2 separate regions of the Homo sapiens genome follow, and region 2 is linked to region 1. The links come from fine-mapping of genetic effects on gene expression. A gene starts in region 1. The other region holds a variant in brackets. All regions are shown on one strand. Distances are from middle to middle. Region 1 holds the start of MITA1 (metabolism induced tumor activator 1). Region 2 overlaps MITA1 (metabolism induced tumor activator 1).

The links. PIP is the estimated chance that this variant, and not a neighbour inherited with it, causes the effect.
Region 2: its variant is fine-mapped to the expression of MITA1 in whole blood (TOPMed, PIP 0.99).

Annotation. Positions count from the first base shown.
Region 1 is chr8:78,799,714-78,811,792 of GRCh38, reverse strand. MITA1 (metabolism induced tumor activator 1) reads right to left here and starts at 7,321. Exons shown (of 3, transcript XR_002956715.2): 1 at 6,098-7,321. It overlaps IL7 (interleukin 7), which reads left to right and starts at 6,330. Exons shown (of 6, transcript NM_000880.4): 1 at 6,330-6,880. The coding sequence starts at 6,871.
Region 2 is chr8:78,843,466-78,855,544 of GRCh38, reverse strand. The region is part of intron 1 of MITA1 (metabolism induced tumor activator 1); the gene reads right to left. Among named protein-coding and RNA genes, the nearest start is that of LINC02605, 12 kb to the right of the region's middle. The variant A/T (reference allele first, on the strand shown) is at 5,929.

The sequences.
Region 1 (12,079 bases):
AAATTAAAAACATTAAAAATGAGAAAGACATAATTGAAAAACATTTTAGTAAAACATAGTGGAGAATTGTTAGAAAAAGAAACAAGGAAATGAAAGCATACAGCCGACATTTAATAAAATGTTACTCAAGAAATAGATGACACACTGCTCCATGGTTTGAAGAAGAAATCATTGGCACATGAAACTCCATGGCTTAGTGTTTTCGTCTCTTAAAAATTTCATTTTTTGTGCTTTTCTCATTGAAATATATATGTCATTGCCAGATAACATATTAAATTATTTGGAGAAAACATTAATGGTAGTTCCAGGCTTGTAGGATGCCAGTTAATTGACACGTTATTGACATAGAAAAATGACTGATACCCCAGAAACTCAGGGACATACACTATATTTCTAGATTATGATGTCATTACTGTTGCAATAAACCTAATCATTTTACATTGTATATGAGTTAATGGATGTACTAAGAGTCCAATAATAGTCTAAGGCAAAGACAAACCTGGCTTGAACCAAACCTGGCTTGCATCAAACCTGGCTTGCCTGAAGGAAAGGTAGATTGGATTAATTTCTAATCTAAAAATAAAAGGATTTCAACAAGACAGCCTTCCATATTAGGAAGACTTCCATATTAGGAAAAGAAATCTAAAATCTATATTAAATATTAGAAGGCTTCCATATTAGACAGCCTTCCATATTAGGAAAAGAAGTCTAAATCTATATTAAATATTAAAATTTTAACAAGCTTGTCACAACTTTAGATATATCAATATCAATCAGTAGTTGGTTTTGTAACATTCTTGGATGTGAACACAAGTTCGCTCAGATATGGTTCTGTGTAATAACAGCGAGTCAAGACTTGTGCAGTCTGATGTCTCCCTTTTCCACAAGTCATACATGGGTAGAATTTGTAAACTGAAACATATTCTGTTGACTACAGAGAATTCCAGGTTGAAAAAGATAGTAACTGCTCTCCAAGAGCTCATAAGAACAAGTTGACATCTTCATATAGTAACTGGATCATATAAAGGGAATCTATCCAGTGATTTAAACAAAATATGTTTACATTTTTTTCAGTTTGCATGAAGAAATTTGTTGTAGGTGTATTCTTTTCTAATTAATCTTCTATAAAGGCAGTGGTTGAAAGCATAGTCCCTCCAAAATCTAGTACAGTCATGCACTGTATAACAAAGAACTGCCTGCAGGACAGTGGTCTAAGATTACAATGGAGCTGAAAAATGTCTGTCACCTAGTGACATTGTAGCCATTGTAACAACTTAGCACAACCAATTACTCATGTGTTTGTGGTGATGCTGGCATAAACAAACCTACTGCACTGCCAGTCCTATAAAAGTATACCACATGCAATACTGTACAGCACCCAACACCTGATAATAAACAATTATGTTATTGGTTTATGCTTTTACTATACTTTTATCATTATTTTAGATTGTACTCCTTCTACTTATTAAAAAAAAAGTTAACAGTAAAACAGCCCGGGCAGCTCCTTCAAGAGGTATTCCAGGAGAAGGCATTGCTATCATAGGAAATGACAGCTCCATGCATGTTATTGTCCCTGAACACCTTCCAGTGGGACAAGATGTGGAGATGGAAGACAGTGATGATGATCCTGACCCCGTGTAGGCCTAAGCTAATATGTGTGTTTGTGTCTTAGTTTCTAACAAAAAAGTTTAAAAAGTAAGAAAAAAGCATATAGAATAAGGATATAAAGAAAGAAAATATTTTCAACAGCTGTACAATGTGTTTGTGTTTTAAGCTAAATGTTATGACAAGAGTCAAAAAGTTGGAAAAAAATAAAAGTTTATAAAGTAAAAATAGTTAGAGTAAGCAAAGGTTAATTTATCATTTCTCGGAATATATTGTTAAATGATGCAAGACTGTATATAAAAGAAAGCCCTGATTGCCAACAATGCAACATTAGCATATAAAGGGATTGGATAATGCAAATCTATGTAAAAGCTACAGCGGCCCTCTCTGAAAGGCGATTTGGGAAATATTAGACTTCTTTCTTAGACAAGCCAATACTCAATCCAGAATTAGATGAGTGCCGATGGGAACATTTCAGTAAGGAACATAAATTTAGACCCCAGATAGAGAGTGGATTCTGATTGTTTAGAATTATAGAATTTTGGGACTGAAATTAAAGAGGAGGGAGAAATGGAGAGAAAATAAGAAAAGAAATCAACAGAGTATCTTGGGTTTCTTGGTTCCATGCTTTCCCCGTTCTGCAGAACCTAATTTTATCCATTAATATATAAATATGCTCAAGTGTTTCTAATAATTGAAAATAAAAACTTCCATGCCTTTCAAATCATTACCCTATCCCTTTTATTATTACCAAACATTTTGTAAAAGTTATATTCTCTTACTTTATTTCTTTCTTCTCTCAACCCCTGCAAGCTAGTATATTATTTGCATCTACACTGCTCTTCTCAAACTGTTGCCATGAGGATCATGGACAATCTCTGCTCTGCCAAATTTAATAGACACACTTTTCAGTCTCTATCTTATTCAACCTCTTTGTGACATTTGGAAATACTGGCTACTTACTCTATCTTGAAATTCTATTTTCCGTTGCCTTCTGAGACACTGACTTCTGACTTTCCCACTTTGCTGCCTACTATGTATTCGTCTGTTTTGTTGATGGGCACCCCTTTCTCCAGCTACTTTTTAGGGTTGCTCATGCCTCAAGATTCCTGCTAGCATTAGTTCTCTCTTCTGTCTTCTAACATGCAGGTTGAGTAATTGCATTCATTTCCATGGCTCTGGCCATCACTGATATGCTAACATACCCATCTCCAGCAAAGTTCTGACAGTCTGACATGGCTATTTTGATTCAGCCTTCAAAATAAACCCTTCTTCATTTTCTCACTTGTAATGCTCAAAACTGACAGTCTCGTCCTATTCCTGGGCTTCATCCACGGAATCAAGTAAGTTTTATTGTTGAACTCTAGTAAGTCTGCCAGAAACAAATAGTTCACATGTTTAACAGTTGACAGTTTTAGAAAACAATAGAATTTCCAATTTATTTTATGAAACTAGCATAACTGGACAAAACTAGCCCAGTATCAGTTGAATATAAAATTAAAAATAAACATAACCCAATTATGACTATAACTGTAAAATTCTAGGTTAAATATTACCAATTTGAACGTTGCATTATGTTAAATTTATGGTTTATTTAGGAATTCAGCAAAAAAACCATGACCATGTAAATAGACGCTCATTAGTCATTTGGTAAAATTTAAATTTTATCAAATTACAGGTCATCCTCTCATAGCTGCTTGTTTATTGGACAGATAAATTAACCTTTATTGATCCTCATTTAACTATGAAAATGGGCCTATACTACTTTAAACTTCTGATTCAAATAATATATCATGTTTCTCTTTTAATGATATTTTTCATCTTTGAAATTAGATATTTAACATCTGTTTTTCCCACCAAACTGAAATCACCTCAAAGACATACACTGCTATCCACAATGTGTAACTTAACATGTGTGAGTGTGCATGACCATTATAGAATTTTGAAACCCAGTGCAAAATGAAAATAAGAGTCCCTTTATCTAAAAATGAGGAATTTCAATACAGTGACAGCAGAGCATCAAATGAAGTACAAGGCCCTGTGCCAATTACACAGATCATATATCCATAATGTTGGCTGTGTGGCGCTGTGTGTGTGTTTTAAATATGTTGAATGTTATTACTGGAAAGTTAAATAAAAAGAACTTCATACTACCCATAGATAGAATGATAGATAGAATTCATATCACAGACTACAAAAAGTAGTCATATTAAGTTGGGTAAAAATAGTTCAGATATTAATCAAAAAATATTTTCTGGTTTACAATAATTGACTATTCTGACTGAAGACTGTAGAACATTAAAAGATATTGGTTAATGTTCAATAATTTTCTCTTTAAATTGACATCATATAATTTTATTTGAACTTCTTCTAATACATTATATTGATCATTCTGAGAATGTTGTCTTCTCTTTTAAAATTTATTTACCATAATTCATAAAATGTATTTACTATTTTCTCCCTTAAAGGCTTTTCTGTCCAGTTCATTGAGTCTATGAGCAAACATAATAGTAACCATTCCATTTCTTTAATCATAAAACATTAGCATTTTAAAAATTTATAAACATTTTATTCTTGTCCATCTATCTTATAAAAAATAATATTCAGTTTATCAAAATATCAAAAGCTAATTTAAGACTTCATTTTGGATTTTTTTCTAAATGGTATTAATTATCTCACAGACAGAAAAAAAAAATCATTACTTGATGTTGTTAGAATGTGCCCATTTCATATAACCCTAACAATTCCCAAAGCTTTATGAATATTCTCTTCAGAAAGATTCTTTATAGTTGGGGGCAGAATCCAGTGTAACATTTACATTGCCTTTCCTGCAGCTCTGAATAACTTCCTTTCATGCTTCCCAAAAGTTCAGATATGTACAACCCTTATTCTACCTGGATTTATGGTGATTGTGATAAAAGGAAGACGGATTTCCTTTTGTGCAAAGTATTGATGGATGCTCTTTTACTTTGTTCCTGGAAAGTTAAAAAAAGAAAAAGGTGCAGGCTATGAACAGTTACATACTTCAATGCTGCTGTCAGGGATTTAAAATAAATAAATAAATAAATAAATAAATAAATAAATAAATAAATCCCCAACCTAGGCGTGTTTCATTATAGAAATCATTTTTAAAACTCACTCCAGTGTCATGTCTGTCCTCCTCCCCACCTCCCACTCTAGGTTCCAGTCAAATGGAAATATGTGGCTTTTCTCACTCCATTCTGTCTCTCTTTTCCATTTGCTTACCCCCTTCGCTTCCTCTTTCATTCTATTTCCTTCTGCTTTCATGAACTTTCTCTTTCACACATATTCACTGATGCATTCCCACTCACCTGTTCTCTCTTACTCTGTCACCCCCCAGTACTTACTGAATGCCAGCCATGGGCTAAAGACCATAGTAAGTGGACGCTGGGCAGGAAGAGAAAGGCCATTGTGGCTGGAGGATAGTGATGTGGTACCACGAAACGTCAGAGAGGGCAGTGGGGCCCAGATCACCAGGGCACTGAGGGCCTGGTACCCAGTGGGAAGTGACCAGAAGGTGGGGCACAAAATAGAATCAGATATCCTGCTGCTCTGAGAAGAATGAAGGGGTTGTGGGCAAAAGTGAAAGCTGGAAGATCCCTTAGACAGTCTCTATAGTCACCTTAGGGTTAATTTTGGAGGTGGGGCAGACAGGACTTGTCTATGGATTTGATGTGGGAAATGAGACCAAAAAAGGAATCAGAGACCCAAGTTTCAGGCTTGAGCAACTCTGTTCTCCCTAGTTCATTGCCATCCTTTTTTTTCCTTTCTCCTTCCCTCCTCTTCCTTGTTCACGCTATAGCAGAATGTGACATACTCCTTACCAGCCCCAAGTTCATTCCTCTTCAAGTGTCAGTTTAGAAGTCACAGACTCCAGGAAACTTTCCTGAAGTCCCCACACTGGGGCAAAGCCACACACGTACTGTCATCTCCCTCCCGGCATCAGTGTGCACATTATTACTTTATTCACAGGAGTTCCAAGCAGGAGTTTCTACAGCCCAAATGCAGCAAGTCTGTGTCTAAGCTCAGTTAGCTAAGTGAAATTTGGAAAGTTACTTAAGGAAGTCTCAGTCCCCACATCTGTAAAGTGCAGATAAGAAAATGGTCTACCTCACACAAAGTTTTGCATGAGATGATATACATAAAATGCTTAGCACAAAACTGGCAGAGAGCAAATGCTAGATAAATGATAGTCGTTATTATTATCGCTGTTGTTACTGGTTTACATTATCCACCTTCATCTAAGCAGGGTTTCTGCAGAATAGCAGAAACCAAACTAATGTAGCAAATAAGCTACATAATTCAAGCCCAGGAAAAAGTTAACATTTCAGTGGCATGCATTCAAGACGAATAGTTTGATTTATTAGCCAATTCAGATAAATGTGCACGTGGAAGTCATAGTTAAATATTATCGTCAGTTTCCACGTCCTGCGTTTAATTTGGGGTTTGATTTTCCAAATACAACACTTACCAGATTAGGTGGACCCACAGGATTATTTTTCCTTGAGGTCTCACCTGAGCAGGTGCATGTACAGCAGACGGAGCAGAAAGAGACTGATTAGAGAGGTTGGAGTGGTAGAGGGCGTGACCCTCTTAATCATTCTTCACTTCCTTTTTTAAAAGACGACTTGGCATCGTCCACCACATCCGCGGCAACGCCTCCTTGGTGTCGTCCGCTTCCAATAACCCAGCTTGCGTCCTGCACACTTGTGGCTTCCGTGCACACATTAACAACTCATGGTTCTAGCTCCCAGTCGCCAAGCGTTGCCAAGGCGTTGAGAGATCATCTGGGAAGTCTTTTACCCAGAATTGCTTTGATTCAGGCCAGCTGGTTTTTCCTGCGGTGATTCGGAAATTCGCGAATTCCTCTGGTCCTCATCCAGGTGCGCGGGAAGCAGGTGCCCAGGAGAGAGGGGATAATGAAGATTCCATGCTGATGATCCCAAAGATTGAACCTGCAGACCAAGCGCAAAGTAGAAACTGAAAGTACACTGCTGGCGGATCCTACGGAAGTTATGGAAAAGGCAAAGCGCAGAGCCACGCCGTAGTGTGTGCCGCCCCCCTTGGGATGGATGAAACTGCAGTCGCGGCGTGGGTAAGAGGAACCAGCTGCAGAGATCACCCTGCCCAACACAGACTCGGCAACTCCGCGGAAGACCAGGGTCCTGGGAGTGACTATGGGCGGTGAGAGCTTGCTCCTGCTCCAGTTGCGGTCATCATGACTACGCCCGCCTCCCGCAGACCATGTTCCATGGTAAGCGCTCTTCTCCCTTGCGCACAAGTTCGCGCGCCCGACGCGCCGGGGCAATCCCAGACGCGCTGGGGGCCCCTGCTCCTAGGCAAGTCCGGGAATAGCCCGGCCTTGCACTTTGGACCTGCGGAGAGCACTGGCTCTCCCATGGGCAGCCAACAGCCGCGCCTGAGTATCCTGGCACATAGCCACTTGAACCTGGGGCGGCTGCTGCCCCTGGCAGGCTGCGAGTAACAGTCCCCAACGCCTGCTTTCTGTCCTGAGAGGGAACGCTGCAGCCTCCGCGCCGCTCAGCGGTGGCAGCCCACAGCCGGTCTCAGAAGCAGCCAAAGGCTCTCTGTCTGGCGCCCTTCCCGTGCTCCTGGCCGCCCCAAGTTACTCACGCAGGCGGCCCGGGTTCGGCGAGTAGCTGGGCTCTTGCAGCTCAGAACTCCCTAGAGAAGTGAAAGCGAAGCTCCCACGGGACGCGCTTTTAAACCCTAGGGGAACAGGTCTCCGGAAAACCCCATTTTTCCCCCCTGAGTAAGACTGGGAGTTTCCGGCAAGGGCTGTACCTTGCGCCTATTGCTGGGAAACCAGTCCTGGGGCTGGCGCTGAGGAAGGCCAGCTTCTGGGTTTTTTTGTTTTTGTTTTTGTTTTTGTTGTTATTTTTTCCTACGGGCGCTTCTTGATGGAGGCAGAATGAAATAGGCGTGACTCTAACTTCCAGACCAGTATTGAGACCTAATATATCTTATTTGTGCAGAATACGGATTTAGAATGGACAGGGACAGAATTCAGGAGGGTTGGATTCGGATGGCAGTCATATATGACCAATGAAAGAGCCAAAAAACTTACTGGAATTAAAAAAGAGGAAAAAGGATTGTGAGGGGAAAAGATCTGCTTAGGAAAATTGGAATGCTTTACAGTAAGTACTTCCTCAAGCAAGAAGACAGCTGGGGGGAGGGTGCGGGAATAGGAAACTGACTGCTCTTTCTTTTGATGGCTACTCCGTTAGATCAAGACTTCTTTCCACTCTCGTGGGTAAAGAATCAAGAATTGACACAACCAAGGAGTGCCAGCTCAGTAACAAAACAAAGATAGAGAGAGCGGAAAGAATAGCCAACGTAATTATGGAGGACTTCTAAGGAATGTCCTCCCGGAGCTTAATACAAAACTAAAAATTGAGCACAACCCTATTTTCCTTGCAATGCCCATAGTTCTGCAGTTTCTTCTTCTGGATCACCCTTGGTTCTAATCCTTGCAACACCTCTGCTCTAAAGTAGAAAGGTAAACTGAGAAAAGGAAGCTAGCGTGTGCATTTTTCAGAAAAAGCCTTTACTTCCTGAAGCACAGTTATATGAATCATGGGCTATAAGTTTTCATTAGCAGACAAAATATTAAAATTCTAATAATAATGATTATAATGCATGGCTTCCTGAAGTTTGTTTCAAGAAATTTCACTAGAAGCTTGTTCCATTAAGAGTGCACATAATGTTACTCTTTACCCTTTGTCTTTGCCATTTCTTTTGAGAGTTGAAGTAGTTGAGGATCTACTATGTGGTCTCCAACTGTCTTATCTGGTTTGGGTAATTTCATCATATTTGAGGACCAAAAAGTTGAATAGCAATAAAAATAGACTCTACTCGGGAGGCTGAGGCAGGAGGATTGCTTGAGCCTGGAAGTCAAGGCTGCCGTGAGCCATGATCTTACCACTGTCCTCCAGCCTAGGCAACAGAGTGATGCCCTGTCTCAAAAAATAATAATAGAGAACTAATATTAGAAACCCTGAACAAGCATAAAGGAGAATTACAAACTGCATCACGTTAGTGTTTGAATATTTTTTTAAAAAATGGAAAAGGCCATTTCATAGAACGAACTTACGTGTCATATTCACACTCATCTATGTGACTTTTTTTTCTGCTTTTAACCCTGACACATAACCTACTGTAACAAGAACAAATATTTAGTCTCTTTTTCTGAAATAAAAGCATATGATGCAGTTTCACAGTTTGGCCAGGAAGTACCTTAGTGAGGTTCATGCACAGGAAGATGGGTTTTTATGCAATCCCCTTGACTACACATATATGGTTATTTTTTAAGGAAGCAATGTAGTTCAGTGCCTAAAAGCTGAGGTTCTAGACTCTTCAATGTGACAGTCTTGGATTTGAATTCCATATCTATATTATGTACAGGAATTTTCTGACTAGGCATGGTGGCTCAAGCCTGTAATCCCAACACTTGGGGAGGCTGAGGTGGGCAGATCACCTTAGGTCAGGAGTTCGAGACCAGGCTGGCCAACATGGTGAAACCTCGTCTCAACTAAAAATACAAAAAAATTTGCCAGGCGTTGTGGTGGGCACCTATAATCCCAGCTACTCAGGAGGCTGAGGGAGGAGAATCACTTGAACCTGGGAGGCTGAGGTTGCAGTGAGCCGTGATCGCACCATTGCACTCCAGCCTAGATGATAGAATGAGACTCCATATCAAAAAAAAAAAAAAGAGAGAGAAAAATACGAAAGGAATTTTCCTACATGACTGTCTTTGTGCCCCAGATTCTCCATCTATAAATGTGAATAACTTGTAGTACTTACCTACTTCTTCATGAAGTGGTTATGGAATTAAATTATCAGTGAAAATAGGTCTATGCAATGGACATTCAGTAAACACTGGTTTTAAAGACTGATAAAGACTGGAGTTGATGGATTGTAGAAAACTATTTATGTTAACTTTGACCCCCATAACTTAAGCAGCTGAGGATTGAATGTATTATTTGGCTTACATTAAAAACCAACAAGAATTTTTAGACAGACCTCCTTCTGGTTTAACCAAATTCCCTACTGAAAACAAATTCTCCAATTTCAGCCTCTTCAGGGGAAGTAAGGGCAATCCCACAAGCCACGCTTGCCTTGCGTTATTCCTATGGTTTATCTTTTCGGTAACCTAATGAAAAGTTCAGGATGGTGGGGAGTGTGGGTGTGACAACAATGCCAAAAGCACTCTCAAACCAGCCATTCTTAATATGTTACTCTCTATGTGATGTAGGAGAAAGGTCTTCAATTATGGACCAAACTACCAAGCTACATCATTAATGGGAGAGCTGGGAACCTATGAGATGTGGGTCCAAGGCCCTAGGTATGTTTGCAGCATTGTCCGTGAGGCAATTTCAGATCTAAAGAGTTTCTGCATTTGGAGGACCAGGTAGATTCTTAGAATAAGGTGTCTGCAAGATGAAAAAGATCATTTAGTCTGAAGTTTTCATTTTAGAAATCAGGTAAGTGACCTTAAGAGATGCTGTGTCATTTACACAGTCACACAAACCATTGTCTTGGCAAGTCAAAAGTCTCAAGTTTTGACTTGACTACTCAGCCTAGGCTCAGTAGATCGTGGCTCACGGCCATGGCTTACGGCCATGGCTCACGGTAAGATCATGGCTCATGGCAGCCTTGACTTCCAGGCTCAAACAATCCTCCTGCCTCAGCCTCCCAAGTAGAGTCTGTTTTTATTGCTATTCAACTTTTTGGTCCTCAAATATGATGAAATTACCCAAACCAGATAAGACAGTTGGAGACCACATAGTAGATCCTCAACTACTTCAACTCTCAAAAGAAATGGCATAGACAAAGGGTAAAGAGTAACATTATGTGCACTCTTAATGGAACAAGCTTCTAGTGAAATCTCTTGAAACAAACTGCAGGAAGCCATGCATTATAATTATTATTATGAGAATTTTAATTCCAAAACCTCTGTGCTTTATATTGCCATAGTCTGTCTGGGGCTAATTATTCAATGACAACAATGGCAACAGAAAACACTCTTAACAGGCAAGGCAAATTATGTTTTAAAATTGAGAAAGTACGTGTAATATACAAAAAGACTGAATTTTCCAGCAACCCTCATTGGAAAGAATGCACAAAATGCCATCCGGTGAATAAATAGGTTGATTTAAATTTGAGGAGCACTTAACTACTGAAAATTGAGGTGAAGAAGACAGCTAATGCTCATAGCAAGTAAAACAACCTCATGTATTAAAACAAAAGGTGGACCTTTGGAATATTTATGATAATGGTAAAAGTATCCCTTTCACTCTAGCATTTAATTATTTTATTATATTCTCCTTTAAGCTCATTTCAAGTTATATGTTATATAATTTTTCCTCTATCATCTACTCCTCCCGAAGTATACCTTTTGGACCCCTGTAAGATGACAGAGAAAATAAAAAGTATGATTTCATACAATCTATACAAATCTGATTACAAGGTCAGAATCTGGTGAATAATTAGCAATTGATCATCCAAATGTCCATCAGCAGAGGTTTGGATAAAGAAAATGTGGTATGGCCGGGCTTGTAATTACAGCTTGTAATTCTGACACTTAAGGAGGCTGAGGCAGGAAGATTGCTTGAGCCCAGGAGTTCAAGACCAGTCTGTACAAAAGAGTAAGAGCCGTCTGCTAAAAACAAATTTTAAAAAATTAGCTGGGCATGGTGGGGCACCCTGTAGTCCTAGCTACTCAGAACGCTGAGGTAGGAGGATCGCTTGAACCTAGGAATTTGAGGCTTCAGTGAGCTATGATCATGCCACTGCACTCCAGCCTGGGCAGCAGAGTGAAACCCTGTCTCAAAAAGAGAGGGAGAAAAAAAGAAAATGTGGTATATGTATACCATGGAATACTACTCAGCCATAAGAGTTAAGTCGTCTTTTGCAGCAAAATGGATGAAACTTGAGGCCATTATCTAAGTGAAATGACTCAGAAAGTCAAATGCTGCATGTTTTTACTTATAACTGGGAGCTAAACAGTGGTACAGATGGACATACAGGGTGGAATAATAGGCATTGGAGACTTTGAAAGGTGGGAGAGTAGGAGGGGGATAAGGATTGAAAAATTACCTATTGGGTACCATGTTCACTATTCAGGTGATAGATACACTAAAGCCCAGACTTCACCACTGTACAGTATATTAAATATGTATTAGTAAGAAATCTGCTCTGGTCCCCCTTAAATCTATGAGTGTACATTTTTTTAATTGCCAAAATATTTTTTTTAAATTAGCAATTGATCACTGAGGATCTTTAGGTTGAAGGAACAGGAGTAGAAGAGAGAGGCAAAACTTCATTCAGAAGACAAATGTGATTACATGTTATCAATAGATTATGGCCATTTCTAATCGAATCCTGGTAAAGCAACAAATTCAGGTTAGCATCCAAACCTGGCACCTACTAT
Region 2 (12,079 bases), 44 kb before region 1:
ATTTTGTAGATGAGAAAATCGACCCAGATAGCTTCCTAATGCCTCTCACTGTCAAATGGAACTCTAACACAAGAATTCTGGATAGGTAAGGAAAAGAGACCTGATCACTAATATGGAAATATTGACCTGGAGCATAGTGATGCTGTAAAAAATACGTGTTTTATTTTATTTAAAAATAAAACCATCAGGCACTGTTCTATTTTTTTAATTAGTGGGCATAATTTATATTAGTAACTCATTTGGTCTTCATAACAACAGAGGCAATATTATTATCTCCATTTTAGACATGAGAAAACTGAGGTATAGAAAAATTGAGTAACATGCTCAAGATAGGAAGTGGTGAAGCAAAATTTCAGATCCCAGCAGGTAGGCTTCATGGTTTATCCTTGTCTTCACCATGCTAAAAACAATGTTAGGATAACATAGGCAAGTCTGTGCAGATTGATAAGCAGTAGTAATATTTCTTCATAATCTTTCCCACAGATTTGAGAATTTTGAATTTTGCATGTAGCTCCACTGATAAAGAATAACAATGTTTTATGAACCTTTGTCAGGTCTTTTAAAATGTATAGTGAAGGATAAAAATCACTGACTGGTAAAGGAAGTTAAAATGAATGTTCATAGTGCTTTCTCCTTTGGAAAAGATACTTTCTAAGAAATGCATTATTCATTTGGGGGATTATAACAAAGCTGGGACATTTGAATGAAACATATTCATAGAATTATTGAATTTGAAATGCAAAATGTAAAAAAGAGAACACTATCCAGAAGTTGTTTTCTGCAGAAAAATTTTAAATCACTCTAGCTTTAAATCTTACATTCATACATCTTCAGCAATAATGAAGAGTCGTTTATTTGTAAATAAGTGAAATAAATTCCATCTCACGAAATGTACTATTAAAGGCGGCACCAGAATACATGTTTTAAAATTTATTTTATTCATTTATATTTTGCATTTTTGTATCTCCCTGCTTTTCCTTAGGAATTTATTTCTTGGACCTCTATTCAGTCAGTGTCTGCCCCTTGTGGTAAGCTGAGGAGCCAGCAGTCAAATGCCTATGTTCTATGTTCCTGCAGGTTACAGTGTGTGTGGGGCCCCTGCAGTTCAGCACAGAGCCAACCCTCGTTTTCTTAGAAGGTGTGGCAGGTTCAGTGGAGGACTAGGGGAAGGGAAAATAGCAGTTGAGATGTCCCCTGAAGGGAGCTACAGCACGGCAGGGTCTGACACTGGCATCATTTTGGGGCATCTATGATTGCAGCTGGGAAACACGCTTGCCCAGGAAACAATCACGATGGAGTAGAGAAGCTTGCTGTTTCCTCTTTGTGTCTGGGAGACCACATTATTGCTTAGGCTTGTAAGGTTTGAAGGGAAGTGAGCTCATTTGACCTGGTAGAGACCATAATTGATCAATCTGTCAGATACATATTTGTTAGAGAGTGGTTGTGCTTTGTAGAAAAACATAAATCAAAATGGTGACTTCATATATTTAATATTTGACTTTATTTACAAATAGCATGTTAATTATACACAGAGAGATATACACCTAGTTAAAATGCACAGTTATGCTAACACCAAATAGAAAGTATTTTTCTTTGTTCCCAATGCTGATATTCTGGCAATGTCTTTATTAAATTTTTTTGTTAACACATTGAATACATTTGTAAGCAGCCTGGAGAAAATGAGAGGTTAAAGGAAGTGAAGAAAGATGGAATGTATTCACACTGACTCTGAATGAATATATTTCACCTCTATTCATTGCTTATAATTCATTTTTTCTGTTGTGACAAGATCCTACTTATGGAAATACTGTTGACTTCAGCTTAGATATAGAAACTTAAATACCTGACTTCAGTCAAGTGTGTTGGGAAGAAGCAGGACAGCTCGCAGCCTTGTGAAGCAATGGAAGGCAATATATCAACTGAGCAGTTGTGAGTCCTGGATCCACTCCCAGGTGTCTCACTCATCTGCTTCATGGCCTTGGCTAATTTGCTTAACCTTTGTGCCTGACAATTTCCACAGCCACAAAATGGGGTTGATTACATTACTGTGTGAGAAAACTTTCGGACACTTTAAAGTGGGGTACAGAGACAACAGATAAACACAGTGATCCCAGGGACTGCTCCTCCCCAGATCGTCCTGCTAAGTGCTTTTAACACAAAAAAGTATGGAGTTGAGGAGACACAGGGAAACTTTTGGAGATGATGGATATGTTTATTATCTTGATTGTGGTGATAGTATTGCCAATGTATACATAGATCCAAACACATCAAACTGCACATATCAAACGTGCAGTTTTTTTATTTATGAATTATATCTCAATAAAGCCATTTAACAGAGAAGGAGAGACAGAACTCAGTAAGCTATGAATAAACTTGATTGGGAAGGATACTTACAAGACGCTACACATTTAAGAGGTGGGATGTTCTGGGAGATCCAAAACTCATCATCACTGAGGGCAGCCTGCTCTGTAAGGACTTGCTCTGCCTGCAGGAAACAGTTGGATAATTTCCTTCCTTCCCCTTCCACACCCACATAATATTAGTGAAAAAAAATTGGAAGACTTGATTTTCCTAGGGGGAATATTAAATCATAGATGAGAGAAAGAAAATATGACCTCACAATATTATACCCACTCTATTGTCATACATGTGTAAAGCAACAAGTAGTCATTCTCAAACATGAAAGATATCAAGGATTCTAGAACCCAAAGACCCTTCTCAAATAAACTATTTGACAATAAAATTTAGCAAGTTAAGCAATACATCAAAACAAAGAAATATGAAAAGGAGATGTCTCAGCATTGAATTTACGGTTATAAAAAAGAATATAAGTTTTATAAATTGGACAATATAAAAACACAACTTAAGAAAAACTGGGACCTAAGAGAGGAGGTCTGAAAGCATAATTATATTTGCAAAGCATGGCATCAATCAATATTGTCCAAAATTAAAATATAAAGTTAAAATAAAACAATTACTCAAACTTAAAAAAAAACATAAAAACAAGATTATTATTTCATAGCTGTTAATTAAAATGATGTGGCATCTATAGTAGGACAAGATTTTAAGCACTTGATGTACGAAGACACAACATGTGATCCCACAAAAACCATGACACACAGCTGATGAAATCTTTGATTTTCAACTATAAAACATACAAAGCTGCCTACTTAATTACTTTACTCCTTCCCTTTTAGAATCCATATATTTGAGAGCTCCCTCTGGTGGTTGAATAAAATATAATTTTCATATTAGTAATACCAAGAACTTTTAAATAAAATATAAAGCTATGATCTACATTGAAATTACTTCCTGTAGACTACGAAAGCCTTCTTATTTTTAATATGATAGACATCATGGTATAGTGATGACAGTGATTGATGATGATGATGATGATAAAAAGAATTCTTTTTATTCAACTCTGACTCGTGTTTATTGTCACAATAGTAGTTAATGTGTTTGGAAACAACCTGGCAAAAACAAGCAGAGAAGGCAAATTCCTTAGAAACAAATTGTATGTTTTTAAATAGTGCAAAATTTTAAAATTAAATTCTAGAAAGTAAAATGGAAATTGAGAAAACATCCTAGGACTCACAAACAGTACAAAGTATAACATATATTCCAAAGTATAACAAACAACAAACAAACAGGGCATCAAGAACAATGAAGATACTACATAATAACATTTCCATTATTACAACAAATGTGTCTCAACAACTTTTTGTTTTACCTAATTCTTCTATCAATTCTTCTGCAGAGTAGCAAGCAGAATGAAGTATTTCAGTGATACACTTCTTAACCCTAAAATCTCCTGGGGGAATCCTAATGTGCAGCCTCTGCCCTTTAACTGGATCAGGTCTTGTCATTGTCTATAGCCCTCTACCATTACTACATAGGACTGAGTACTTACACAATGATGCCAGGAAGTGCTTTGCCATGGCCAAGCCCTGGTGATTGATCCTGTAAGCACAGGACCTGATTTTCTCCTGAAATGCTGACTTCCACTCCATAGTCTGCCCTGTCCCTTTGCCTAACACTTTGTTTCCCGCTAGGATTTGAAGGCTTTTCTGAACTCTGGGTCGTGTGCCTGAGTCCAGAGACCATATGTAGGTCAGTCCTTTTCTTTTTGAGTCAGTACCATAGGATGAGGGTCCTGCTATCAAGGTTTAGCTCTCTAGGAAAGACTGACAGCCTGGCCACCTTTCCAACCATGCTGTGAATCACACTTTTTGTGCCCTCACTTGTAGGGTGGTATCACTTGGTGTGCACACCTCCAGAGTTAGGAATGAGAGGGATTCAGTATTCCAGTTACTCCAGTCACAACTCCTTCCGGTCATACCCTCCAATGGGGTAGTTTTGACAGTAAGGTCAGTGTTCTCAACCCGACTCTGGCTGAATCCCCAGATTCCAACAAGACCTCAGCCAGCCTAATGCCAAAGATTCAGTTGGGATACCTGCATCCAAGCATATAACTCCAAGTTATTTCTACCACAACAACATTGAGAGTTAGTATGAGAAAAACATTCTACAAACTGTAAATCCCATGTACATTACATATTAACAGCAATTAGCTTTTCATTTCCATTAATGCAGTAGTCCTATCAGATACACTGTGTGCTAAATAGAATCTGTGGGTCTTCCTGAGATTCTGACTATCATGACCAAATGTTTTTCAAACAAAATGTGCTAAATCCTGAAGCAGCCATTGGCAGGGCTCACTCCCAAATAGCTAGTCAAACTGTCAATGCAATAGCACTTGGTAGACGTAGGTAAAAGGTGCTTTGTTGCAACATGTTTTCCAAAGAGAAAGTGTGAAACAACAAGATTCTGTCAACATTTTGATATTTTTAGTGTATATAAAAGAATATCTGCCAATCAAAATAAATAAGGGACAATGGAGAATTAGCATACAATGGAGAATTAGCATACAAAGTTCTACTTGGCTTTGTATTTCTGATGTCTGCAAGAGAGTATGCCCTAATGAAATCTGTCCAAAGGGGTTGTGCCATGTCACAGTTTAATGTAATGGGCTGCTAATACGTAGGCACAATGCCCTTCTTTTTCTGGCTAGATGCACTTAGGTTAGTCAAAGTGTAGAGCAAGTCTGCCCTTAATCACAAAGTTTGCTAAAACACAGCTAAGTAGAAAAGTCAGTGTGCCTTTATGCCTTTAAATACTGAGATTGGCATCTCCGCAGTAGATGTGTGCATATGTGTGTTCACATCTATTTTTCAGTATTGTCTGATTTCATCCTCACAGGCCTACGTTTCAGCTACCTTATAACTTTTCCAATATAAAAAATTCTTTAGCCCCTAAAAAAAAAAAAACCCTTCTGTGGAACATGTGGCCTAATGGTTTCTGTTAACATGAACTTATGCAAACAAAAATTGTCTTCTACAAATGTTCATATTCTATTCACAGAAAAATATAGTAGCCAAATGAGTGCCTTCATCAGGACAACTGGTATAAACTTCAGACTTTCTCCTAAATCATATTATCTGCCAAAAGCCAAGTGACACATCCTACTTTGCAGCCTCACAACACATGTGACTCAAAGCCATGTGTCAGCAATATTACCAGTCACCACATTGGGCAATTAGGGGGTTGCTCTTGATTTATCAAAATTGTGAATGTTTGCTGCTTCAAGGTGGAGGGTTCTGCTGCTTTAATTCAGAACCTTTATGGGCTACAGCTCATATGCTGTCTTAGTTCATTCTGTGCTTCTATAACAGAATATCTAAGACTGAATAATTTGTAATAAACAGAAATATATTTTCTTAAAGTTCTGGAGGTTGAGAAATCCAAGATCAAGAGGCTGGCACCTGGTGAGAGCCCTCTTGCTGCATCATCCTACGGCAGGAGAGCAAAAGAGCACTCAGGTGAGAGAGAGGAAAGGAGGCCAACCACATCCTTTGATCAGGAATACTC[A/T]CCTGCAATAATGGTGTTAAGCCACACAGGAAGGCAGATCCCTCATGGCCTAGTTTTACCTTAAAGGTCCCACCTCTCAACACCATTGCATCGGGATTGTTTCTAACAAGTGAACTTTGGGGGACACGTTCAAATCACAGCATATGCTAAATAGCAACACCAGAGACATTCCATTCCCAGGTCAATTTCCAACAGAGTACTTAAAACTTTTTCCCTTTCCTCCCACTTGAGAGAATATGTCAGAAATCAGTGACAATGACATCATAATAAACATAACCTAGAACACGTTACATTTTGTATTTTTAAAAACCATATAATATCACAAACTTAGAAATATTAGTAATTTGCAACATATTCTCACAATGACTCACCACACATCCTATGTTAAAAGAGCATGTTTTAAAAGTGTTGGTCTATAGGTTTCATTGTAAAGTGATGGGATTTTTATAGCACTTTACGTGCATTTTTCATTCAATTCTCACAATATCCTTATAAAGTAGCAGGTGAACATATCATTTCCCTCGTATTACAATTTCCTTTCACACATTTATGGGATCATGAATTAAGCATGGGCCAAATATTTGCTGCACAGATACAGGAAAAGGGAGGGAGGGATTACTTTTATAATTAAATTTGCAAGGCTAACATTTAGAAGACTTTTTATTTCTTCTTAACTGCTTCACCTATAATTGCGAAATGATGCTGTTATACCAGTAGTTTTTGGTGTTTGTTATACTAATTTATTTTTCCTTTCTGATAATTTATAGAAAAAATAAGGGCACTAAATTAAATAAGTTCTAGGAAATACTGCATATTATGTCTGTCTTGTAAGTTCACAGTGTTCTTTTGCATATTCATGGTGCTGAAAAGTCTTTCAGTAAGAAGCAACAGACACTGGGGTCTATTTGAGGGTGGAGGGTGGGAGGAGGGAGAGGAGCAGAAAAGACAACTACTGGGTCCTGGGCTGAATACCTGGATGATGAAATAATATGTCAAACAAACCCACGTGACACCTGTTTACCTATGTAACAAATCTTCATATGTAACTCCAAACCTAAAATAAAGGTTAAAAAACAACAACAACAAAAATTAACAACCAAGCTCCCTATCTGAAAAAAACGTCCTTCAGTAAAGAATCATGTTTAATATTGTTTCACTTCTGTTATTAACATTTTTTTGACCATGGAAACTTTTGCTCCTATAAATGCTGTTAACACGATTTGGAACCGACTTCTGTAGAACATATTTTGAGAACTGCTACTTGAAATGTTAACTGTCTCAGGGTTCAAATAATCAAGCGCCCTATAGATGTTTTACTCACTTGTTTTTATATAAAAGAAAAAAATAGGTTACTTCTTGTGAGAATTTCTTATAAAGGATTCCTCTGAGAAACTGAGAGAGATAACTAAAAATAAATACAAATGAGAAACAAAATGTTCATCAATTCTTAAACCAATAAATACTGCCAATGATACACAGATTGAGCATCCCTAATCCAAAAATTCAAAATCCATAATGCTCCAAAATCTGAAAATTTTGAGCAGTGACATGACACCACGAGTGGAAAATTTCACACCTGACCTCATGTGATGGGTCACAGTCAAAGCACAGACACACAGCACACAGTTTACCAAGCATCCCCAAGAGAAAAAAGACCCCCCCCCCACCTGCTTCTGCTGCAATGTATCTTTTCTGAGCACATCATGACAGTTATACCAAACAACCACAGATTGTCCACATGAGTGGCTGAGATAGTGACACCTTTGCTTGCTGATGACTTAATGTACACGAATTTGTTTCATGTACAAAATTATTAAGAATAATGTATAAAATTACCTTCAGACGAGGGTCATGGGGTGTATATGAAACATCAATGAATTTTGTGTTTAGACTCAGGTCCCATCCCCAATATATCTCATTATGTATATTCAAATATTTCAAAATCCAGAAGAAAACCTGAACTCTGTAACACTGAGGTCCCAAGCATTTCAGATAAGGGACACTTACCGTGTATCACAACTTTCTGGCAGGAATCTCTGCTAGATACAGTAAATTTGAATCAGCGTGAAGAAAAACATCGAAGATTGATATGCAACTTCCCTTCCTGAAAATGTGCAGTTTTCAGGGAAGTAATTAGAGCAAATTCTGACACTTCTCACTAACAGTAAGTAATTGGAGAACTGGCTGGAAGCACAGACAGCTTTGGGGGAAATGGGTCTCTGCCATAGACTGTCGCTGCCCCAAGCTAATCAAACTCAGAAAAATGAACAACCACTCCTCCGTATATTGTTATTGTTTGTTTCTTCATTGATTCCACTTTTCTTAAAAGTAACTATTTTCTCCAACATGGCAGTGGGAAAGGGATCCTCAGAATCTAGAGACTTTTGAAGCAAGATTGAGCAATTTTCACAGATGTAAAAGTTATTACTCAAGAAATGGGAGAAAAAATGTAGCTTCAGCACGCTGAAAGCCCACAGGCCCCAGGGCTTTTAACCAACCTGACTTATAATCTATCTAGTTAACATACCTGAATAATCCAAAATCAAAGGCATACTCCTTAGTACCTTCAACGCAGGCCACACACAACCCACTCCCCTCTTCTCCTCCTAGCTCCCTCCACCAACCCACACACACTAGATCTCACACAACACACTAGAACTGAAATTTGGTGCATTCTTTCCTAGCAAATATATAGAGAAAAAATGCAGAAATAAAGCTTTGCATGGCCATAGCTCTTTTCCTACCTGCCCAGGTGCAGCATGACTGAATTTATATTTAAATTTGAAGGATGAATTAAAATGGCAGCCAGGTAAACAGGAGAAACCATGAATGATCTATCCATGTTATTTTAGGAACAAAAGCTGTCTTGTACAGTCTTTATTCAAAGATGAGTACAAGCAAAAAAAAAAAATGTTTTAAAAATATGGCAGAAAGCACAGCATGTGAAACATAGATTAGGCGTATTCTTTGCAAATAGATTTATTTCAGGAAAGAGGATAAAATTTTAAGGAGAAACTGTAGTGTCAAGGTAATTATAAAGCTGTACAATAATATAAGCTATCATATACAGATAATTCTCCATTTTTCAAGTTCCCAGGAAAGTTATTAACTCTGTGTAAAGTATTCAACCCTGTTCATATAAGTTTAAAAATCTGTTTGAAAGACATTTTTTTGTGGAAAAATATAAGTGGACCAAAATAAATCAATAATAAAAGAAAACTGACAGAGCTATTATAGAACAACAAAATGTTGTAGAAGAATTCTTTCAGATTTCAGGGAAGAGTTTACTTCTATGAGCTCAGAGGAAGAAGGAAGGCTTCACATGATTTTATACAAAATTCATGTAACCCCGAAGCAAAACTCAACCAAAACAACCTACAAATAATAAAACCCCAGACCCATTTCAACATAAATTTAACAGCAAAAATTAGTAATAAGATGTTAATATTTGTAATCCATTGCTGTACTGAAATTCTATTAATGACCAACTGATGTTCATTGCAGAACATAAAAATGGTTTAATGCTAAAAGATTTGTTAATATAATTTCTCCCACAAATAGACTGAGGAAAAGAATCTGTAGTCACCATATGTTCTAAAAAGTCATCAAATGCCTATTCAACTTTTTTTAAAACTTCTTAATAAAGACCTTTAGCATATTTTTTAAAGAAAAAAAAAGCTTAAACTAACAGCCAGAAATTTTCTCTCTCACCATTACTAATAATATTCTTCTAGGAAAGCTAGCCAAAGGAATCACTGAAAAATGTTTTCTAAGAATATTAAGTATAAACAATCAAAAGGAGGCATTATATGATAAAGACTCAAAATTTGTTAAATTTTATTTGTAGACAAAATAGTTTGCTACATAAAGAAAACAAGAATATTGACTAAAAGTAACTTAGAGAGTTCAGCAAAGACAATCAGTTGAGAAATTAGTATTTTTAAAGGTAGCTTTTCTATAATAAGGAAACAACTAGTTAAAATAAAACAAAGATATTTCATTCACAATAGCAACTGTTATATGGTAGCCTTACAAACATCAAACATTACTAGGGAGACATAGGACTGGATGTGCTTTCTTCCTTCACTTTCTTATTGTTTAGATTTCTGTATTTTTTTAAAGTGTTAATTTTATTAACAAAAACAAAACATATTAATTATCAAAAACTAAAGACCTATTTTCTTTAAAAACTAAAAAACTAAATACATTAAGATAAACATCAAGATATTTTATCATTATATTTTAATAGATAAGACAATTTAATAAAGATTAACTTCATAGAATTACTTTTTAGTGCTAAAAGAGTCTTTAGAAGACATCTAACTCAAGCCTGCATTTTCAAATAAGAAGTTCAGGGCTTTACTGGTTACAGGATTTGTTTAAGGTTTCTAGTCAATGGCAAAACCATGTTTAAAACTCAGGACTTCTGACTTTGAGTCCACAGTTTCTTTATTTTTTCCTGACTTCTCTTACCCGTTCTACTCCTCATTATACTTACAAGAGTAATTCTTAGCTATTCATGATCTTTGTTCAATTTGACTTAGATTTTAGAGTATTAATGAAACACTCATTCAACTCACACTAATACGTTGAACTTGGAATCAAGATCGGTCAGTGGCTGTTTAGGGATTCGGTGGAGCTTGGCACTGCAAATTCTTGCATTTAGCTTCGCTCATCTGGTACTGACTATTCCGCTACAGCCATAAGGCATTTATTTTCTGCTAAGTTGATATAAGTAAAAATGGGAAAATGCTCCACTTTCTGGGGGCTCCTCTAGCCCTCACTTTCTTTCCTGTTCACCAAAGAACAGAAATATGTAAAGAAGACATTTCCTACACATTCACAAAAGTATATATCCTTCTTGCCCATTCATTAAATATCCAGAATAAAAGGTCTTTATGGCCAGATGCTATCTATTGCTTATTTTAAAATGGTTACATTAACTTATAATCATGTTTCCATAATTCCAATCCACAAACTTGATTCAGAGATAACAGTTCCTTCTTTTAAATCTAGTTATATATCCAAGCTTAGCCAATCATAACCTCCATGGACAGCATTAATTTTTAATATAATAACTAATAACAGTAAGTTACAAAGTGTGAACAACTGGAGACAAGGATGGTATATAAATCACAGGAGTGCAAGCAGCTCAGTTTAGGCAGGGAAAGAGACAGAGGTTCTGGCTGAACTCCTTGGGAAGCAGAGGCAGAAGAGGAGAGAGACTAAGAGCAGAACTCTACTAATTTTTGACCAGCCTGGAAGTACTGAACTACCCTGAGCAACAATGGTCAGAAGGACACCCGTCATGCAGCCCCACCTCTACATTACTTGCATGTGCTGATTATCTAATCCATTCTCTGGATGACTATTTTCATAAATGTCTTTCTCCCTCCTCATGCTCAACACCTCTTCTATTGTCACTCTCACCCAATGGCTCTGCTTTCTACTTTGTTCAAAAAAATATATATAAATAAACTGAAGCAACAGAAGACACTCTAACAAGCTCTCATCATTATATTTGCACCTAGTAACTACCTTCACTCTGTTTTCCTTTGTTATAGATAAACTGCCTGCATTCTTACCCAAGGGCAACTCCTCAATTATTCACTATGTTGCCTTAGGTTACGGTTAACCTATTCAAGGAACCAGCTCCCCAAATCTCTCTTCTTTCTCCTGCAACATCAATTTCCCCATCTCTATATGTTATCATTTCCATCAGCATACAAGTGTACTGTTACTTCTACCATATGAAACACTTTTTTCTTTCTTTCTTTCTTTCTTTCTTTCTTTTTTTTTTTTGAGGTGGAGTTTCACTGTTTTTGCCCAGGCTGTAGTGCAATGACACGAACTTGGCTCACTGCAACCTCCATCTCCCAGGTTCAAGTGATTCTCTTGCCTCGGGCTCCCGAGTAGCTGGGATTACAGGTGCACGCCACCAGGCCCAGCTAATTTTGTATTTTTAGTAGAGATGGGGTTTCACCATGTTGGCCAGGCTCATCTCGAACTCCTGACCTCTGGTGATCCGCCCTCCTTGGCCTCCCAAAGTGCTAGGATCACAGGCGTGAGCCACCTTGCCCAGCTGAAACTAATTTTTTAAATGAAACACATTCATTTCTCTGCTCCTTGTACCTTCATATCCTCCCTTTCT